2 separate regions of the Homo sapiens genome follow, and region 2 is reported to be linked to region 1. The links are microRNA targets in miRTarBase. Many come from high-throughput screens and were not tested one by one. Region 1 holds a microRNA gene; the other region holds the end of a gene's coding sequence.
What was found. The annotated mature microRNA hsa-miR-4645-5p reads ACCAGGCAAGAAAUAUUGU and lies in region 1 at 1,351-1,369, opposite strand. An mRNA with a match to its seed (bases 2 to 7 or 8) in the 3' UTR can be bound and repressed. Matches are read on the target gene's strand: a 7mer-m8 pairs with bases 2 to 8, a 7mer-A1 pairs with bases 2 to 7 and ends in A, and an 8mer does both.

Region 2: the mRNA of CTDNEP1 is a reported target of hsa-miR-4645-5p. Seed matches in the 3' UTR shown: 7mer-m8 at 2,561-2,567.

What each region holds. Positions count from the first base shown.
Region 1 is chr6:2,852,729-2,856,128 of GRCh38, forward strand. It overlaps MIR4645 (microRNA 4645), which reads right to left and starts at 1,379; the gene lies at 1,303-1,379. It also overlaps the pseudogene SERPINB9P1. RefSeq lists enhancers at 1,099-1,839, 2,416-2,475, 2,536-2,665.
Region 2 is chr17:7,241,527-7,244,926 of GRCh38, forward strand. It overlaps CTDNEP1 (CTD nuclear envelope phosphatase 1), which reads right to left. Exons shown (of 8, transcript NM_001143775.2): 7 at 3,025-3,109; 8 at 2,065-2,719. The coding sequence ends at 2,659. It overlaps GABARAP (GABA type A receptor-associated protein), which reads right to left and starts at 923. Exons shown (of 4, transcript NM_007278.2): 1 at 715-923; 2 at 75-153. The coding sequence starts at 804. RefSeq lists enhancers at 80-631, 632-1,183 and silencers at 796-985, 1,576-1,685.

The DNA of each region.
Region 1 (3,400 bases):
TTCTGTATGAAGCATGTTCACACAGTGCAGTGCTGACTCTCTGTATGAAGTGTGTTCACACGGTGCATTGCTGACCTTCTGTATGAAGTGTGTTCACACAGTGAGGTGCTGATCTTCTGTATGAAGCATGTTCACACGGTGCAGTACTGACTCTCTGTATGAAGTGTGTTCACACGGTGCGGTGCTGACTCTCTGTATGAAGCGTGTTCACACAGTGCGGTGCTGACTCTCTGTATGAAGCATGTTCACACGGTGCGGTGCTGACTCTCTGTATGAAGTGTGTTCACCTGGTGCAGTACAGGCTCTCTGCATGAAGCATGTTCACACAGTGCGGTGCTGACCCTCTGTATGAAGCGTGTTCACACAGTGCATGTGAAACCAGAACCGACAGTCGAACCCAAGCAGAAGTCTTGACCAAGCACTTCCCTCCTGGGAATGCACCATGATATCACCACACCGAAGTCCAGGCTGGCAAATAGGGACATTTAAGTGACATTTAAGCTCGTGGTGGCCCTATGAGGAGTCATTGCTGACTGAGATGGGATTTTAAGGTGTTGCCTGCCTGTGTGTTCTCAGACCCTCTCCTGAAGCCCCACCCCTTCCCCTGATCCTCTCCTGGGACCCCCCTCCCCTATCCCTGACCCTCTCCTGGAGCCCCCCTCCCCCCTCCCTGTCCCTCTCCTGAAGTCCCCTCCCCTGACCCTGTCCTGGGACCCCCTCGCCTTTCCCTGACCCTCACCTGAAGTCCCCTCCCCTTTCCCTGACCCTCTCCTGGAGCCCCCTCCCCTCTCCCTGTCCCTCTCCTGAAGTCCCCTCCCCTGACCCTCACCTGGGACCCCCCTCCCCTTTCCCTGACCCTCTCCTGGGACCCCCTCCCCTTTCCCTGACCCTCTCCTGGAGCCCCCTCCCCTCTCCCTGTCCCTCTCCTGAAGTCCCCTCCCCTGACCCTCTCCTGGGACCCCCTCCCCTTTACCTGACCCTCTCCTGAAATGCCCTGCCTGCACCATTGTCTTATATTTTTCTCATGGTTAGACTGGGGTTATGGTTTTTTCTGGGAAAGGCCACAGAGGTAAAGTGACATCTCATTGTGTCATATTCAGGGTCCATGCCATCAACATGACTCATCAGTGCTGACGCGGTGATGACCTGGGGGACGCAGTGTTTCTCAGGTTCCCCCACTGAGCCTCTGCAACTCCAGTAGTGACAAACCGCTCCACCCCCCGCCATCCATTTTCTTAATTGTTCAATTGCTAGTATCACATTTCATCAAGAGACGCATAGCAGAGTCCAACCAAGACTCCATGATAGAGAAACCAGGCAAGAACTACTGTCTCGTCGCAACTTGAGGAGACAATATTTCTTGCCTGGTTTCCCTATCATGGAAACTGAGTCCCCCACAGTTTCGTTTCCTCAATCGAGCTAATTACTGAGGTTGCTTAGCAGCCTCCGGAGTGAGCACAGCGGAAACTATCATTAGGGAACTTTGAACGTTTCTGTGAAATGCCAACAGGAAATGTTTCGGCATTTTCAAAATATTTAGAAAATTCCCTGTTCAGTTACAAAAGTGAATCTGAATCTTACCCTGCAGAAGTTAAACTGCTCCCTCTTCTGGATAAAATTACCTTTGTAATTTCTTTTTACAACCTACAGCCTATTGTGCTTGGGTTTCCAAATGGTTTAAAGTTCCCTTGTCCCTTACTTTGTGTCAAGGGGGTGTTTGTGCCTTAAAGGGAAGATCCTGTGCCTTAAAGGAAACCAGAACTGATAGTCGAACCCAAGCAGAAGTCTTGACCAAGCACTTCCCTCCTGGGAGTGCACCATGATATCACCACACCGAAGGCCAGGCTGGCAAACAGGGATGTACACGCAGGGGAGACGAGAACTTCTCCCGTGAGAAACAGCACAGTCCAGCCATATGAACCCACAGCTCAGGAAGTATTGCTCACTTTTACTGTTCTCTCTTAGGGAAGGGCATTCTCAAAACGTTTCCGCACAAGCAGACCATCCCTTTTATTTTCCCCGTCTGTCTCCTTTCCTTCTGCTTTCAAAATGTCTCAAGAGTATTTACAAGAGTTGAGCAACACAGGCATCTTTATCTGGGGTCTTTATCCACAGAGCAGAGGACAGGAAGTCATCACTACAGAGACGAAGCGATGTATGGTTTGACCCAGTGGAGGACTTTGTTAAGGTGGAGGTGTGAGTGTGGAGTGTAAACGTGGGACATCCAGGGCAGTGGAGGGTAACCACTGGAGAGGAAGTCTGGGGACAGTTTGGGAGCAGCCAAATATAAAATAAGCATTTCTGTTCTAAATCCAAATGAACATTCTACGCTGCTGTCATCTCCAGTATACCTCAGAGATCCTAAAGTTTCCTGAAGTTGTTTGGAAGTCACGGCCGATGTAAAGTGAAAGCGCACACATATCTGTAAGCTCTGAGCTCAGGATTTCACGTGAGGTCCTTTGTTCGGGAGGCAGGGGGGTTCTCCCTGTTGCTGGCTGAGGTCACTGCATTCATAGTGTGACAGGAGACAGCACAATACAGCAAAGCAGCTGGAGGGATTGCCTTGTAGAGTGGAAGACCTTCCGCAGAACAGAACGCTCTCTGTCCTGTTCTGCTGGAGAATGAAAAGGGATGGGTGGCCTGCGTGAAACCTCTTTATGGGGCTTGTGCGTTCTGACACTGTGACCGCCGAGGCCACAGCTGCCTTTGTTTCTTCCTCTCTGACCTCCATGAAGGGCTAGCGCACAAACTTGGACAGGGACGGCTCTATCTCTTGGGTGATATTCTGGAAAAGTCAGTCTTGACTTAGTCAAAGGCATCGGTAATTCCCCAACAGCTGAGAGCAGACTCCATGCTGCGGTTTTCTTGTAACTTGAATCGAGGAGACTTCCACATCTTTGCTATCCATTGCGCCTGGCTTTGTCCACTCGCTGACTTCTTCATATATAAGCTCATTTTCCACCTGGAAGAAAAGAGGAGAGAGCCTTAGGGCCCCAGCATTGGGTCCGCACCGAGGCCTACACTGCTCCCCCCATTCCCACCTAGGACCATGGCATCCCAGTCCTCTCTCCCTGTGGGAGGCTTTCACAGAGGTTCACATGGGCCCAGGCCACTATGATTTTCTGAGTCTCCTTGTTTAATAAAGAAAATGAAGTGCCAAATATTGTGGTATGTTTTAAAATTTTGTATTTAACAAGTGATCTTTCAAAAATGCAATGCAATCTAATTGCGCTATTCCGAAGTTAAGCATAGGATTTAGAAAACATTCTTATGGCATTTCTTTCATGGAACATGAGCTTAACTTTTATCATTAAAGTAATTTCTGTCCGTCTTTTCAGTGTATCTGTCTCTGTGACTCTAAGTATAGTAAGATTACTAGGAAATAATTTCAACATTTTAA
Region 2 (3,400 bases), not on the chromosome of region 1:
GGTGGAGCCTCCTCCCGCAGAGACTGCACTCCCACCCACAGGAAGCAAGCCTGAGTCTTGGATCAGGTTCCCACCTGTGAGATCAGAAGGCACCAGGTATTTCTTTTTGTCCAGGTCTCCTATCCGAGCTTTGGGAGCCTTTTCTACTATCACCTGATAAAGAGATGAAAATTAGGAGACAGAAGGAATGCAGCCCCGAAGCTGCACCTGTCAAGAACTCAAGAAACAATATTCCTAGCACCTAAATCTACCCCAGATTCATCTCTTTGTCTTTGTACACGCGGTGCAGCACTGAGTCCCAGAGATCCTGACCTCACTGACTGGAGCTCATTTAAATATCCAGGATCCATCCCCCAATAGGGCGTCACCATAAACAACTATCTTAATCAGACGGAGGTGACTTGTTTGGGTCGACTAGTGATTCAATCTCGCAACCTTAGCTAGCTGGGGGGATGACCATTTGAAGCTCAGGCTGTCAAACTCTCTAAGGCCTCAAATGCTAAGGTTTCTCTCTCCTGTCCACATCCCTCTCAACCCCACATCCACCACTACCCCACTCCTTTCATCCTGGGTCCCAAGGACAGCAGTTTCAGGCTCGCTGCCAACCCCACCACAGCCAGCAGCCTGATCCCTGCGCTGCCTGTCCCGATCCAAGGCCAGGCTGTGGCGTCAGCGTAAGCGTCCCGCGCCCTCGGCCCTGGCTACTGTCCTCACCGGCACCCGGTCCGGGTATTTCTTTCGGATCTTCTCGCCCTCAGAGCGGCGCTTCTCGAACGGATGCTCTTCTTTGTACACGAACTTCATCCTCCCGGGAACCGGGCTGGACAGGGCTGGGCTGAGGGAACCCAGGGGGGCCGGGACGGGGGGCGGCGACGACGGCGGCGACGCGCGGGCGGATTCAGCGGAGCGATCCACGAATTTGCGCCACTTCCCTATTCACCAACCCCGCCCCCGACTATCGGGGACTGCCCCCCCCGCTAAGATACGCCACTACCTCAGCGGCGCTAACGCTGCTAGCGTAGCACCACCAACTGACCGGCCCCCTCACGCCATTAGCGTAATCGCTTTGGAATCAATTTGTGGGCTACGCAGGCGACGTAGCAAAGACGGTTGGCTTTTGCTCATCGAAAATTACTCTAAACCTATTCCCCAACCGTCCCCTCAAGGAAGCTGGGGCTGAAGAGGAGTAAAAGATGGTAATCATCATACGAGACTTGGTTCTCCAAGTTCCTTTCGTTAACAACGTAGAGGAACAGCAGGGACAATTACAAGGTTAGCTATTCACGAACCGTGTTGCTACGCTGAAGGCGGCCGTTGACACCAAAACAAAGTAGTACCCAAGTGGCGGAGATGATCTCCAGAAATAAGAAGTCAAAAAGAAAACAGATGTTTGGAGAGATCTACAGAACGCTTAAGTGCCAAAATGAGTAGACCAATAGGGACTGGAGAGGAGGTTGGAAAGGTAGGGACTACGCCAGCGCGGAGGAACACTGCGGGACTTGAGTTAAATCATGTGATCTCAAAGAGGGCGGAGCGTCACGTGGCGGGTGCGCGAAGTAGGGCCGGCTTGGGAGGGCGCCGGGGAGGCGGGGCCGGCTGGGCGACAGCTGGGAGGGGGACCGACGCCTTCCCGGACAGCGGAGGTCGGGGCGCCAGCCACCTGGGGGCAGCGCCCGCTTAACCTGTCCACGTCAGTGCCCCGGACGAAGCCCGGTTTCTCCAGCTCTACGCCCTTTGGCCGTCCAGGTTTCTCCTTTCGTGCTTCCATAGCCGGTTTCTCCTTTCGTGCTTCCATAGCCTGCTTCTCCGAAGGTGTCCTTCCACTCCCCACCAGCGCGCCCATCCTGTCACTCGGCCCTTCCCGCCAAAGCATCTGGTGTCAGCATTATTGTATCCCAGGCATCTGGTGTCCGCATTATTCTATCCCTATACTCAACGCCACCTTTCCCCCTGCCCCTTGAGTCCAACAGCAGTCTCTTCCCCCTCTGCCTGTGGGACAGGGTGCATGTGAACAAAGTCCCCTCTCTTCACTTCCCAAAACCCCAGAGAAGGACCTAAGGCCGCTTTGGTTTCAAAGTTATAATGCATGGTTTAAAAGAGAGAAAAGGAAAAAAGACACAAAGCTGGTTACAGGTCTGAGGGAGTCTAAGGAGAGAAAAATAGAGGGAGAGTAAAGGGGGGACAAATTTAGGGAAAATCCAGTGGCCCAAAATCCCAGTATCCCACCCACAGCCCAGCCCTTGGAGCAGGAGTGAAGAATTAGATCAGTTTTGTACAAGAGTTTTTTAAAAAAAATCAAATCACAACAAAGCTGACTTGGCTTCTCTTTGAGCCTCCTGGATCACCGTATGTCTGTCACTCTGGCCAGTCCTGCCTCTTCACAAACACTGATTCGGCTCTCCTAGGCTTCCGCCTGTGTCCCAGTCTGGGGTTTCCATGGAGTGTGAACACGAAGTTAAGAGTGAGGCTGCTTCAGAGCCCCTGGCCCATGTGTCCATCCAGACTCCAAGTGGAGTGTAGGGCTCCCAGGGCAGAGAGGGGTGGGAGGGGCAGACCCTGCCCAGGCAGTCCTCACATTGGACAGGGCATCAGACGGCATCCCAAGGGCTCGCCCTCCCTTTCCCCCCCACCCCAACTCAGGTGGAGGGGGAGCAGCTGTCACCAGAGCCGATGTTGGTGAAGGTTTCGGCTCAGCACGGAACGAACATCAGCGGTGAACCTGGGGTGACAATAACTTGCATTGGTAGAGTACCTTATAGTTCATACCCTCACAACACTCTTGTAAGGCAGCATCACTGGAGATGTGGGACCTAAATTATCACCATATTCATGATTAGATAGGTTCAATTTGCCCACAGCCTACTAGCTAAAGTGATGAGCTTTGAAGTAAGACGACCTGGGTCCAAATGTTAAATTCTTAAGGGAACAGAGTTAAAACAGGACAAACCTTTTTTATTCCCTCTGAGGATCCCCCACCTCCTCCTTTCTTGAGATATCCAAGTGTCCAGAGCCCACTTCCCTTACCTGAGGGCATCCAGCATTGGGAGCAGGTTGAGAAGGGCTGTGTCGCTGGGGTCACTGAACCAGGATTTGATGGGGATGGCATTGTCTAGGGTGGGTGAAAATGCAGATGAGAAGAAACAGAATTCAAGAGAGACGGTGTTTTTCTCTTCTTGGAGGGAAGGAGGAATTATTGTTAAAAATATATGCCTCCCACTACCGGAAGTCAACAACCTAAGTAAAACTTTCCTGGTTTATGCTCCGAAACTAAGTTTTAATCACCAGATCTCATACCTATTGATGCTTCTAGTCAAGCTTACTGCCATTGTGCCTCACTTGAAACACACTTGGCCAGGCGCAGTGGCTCACACCTGTTATCCCAACACTTTGAGAGGCCGAG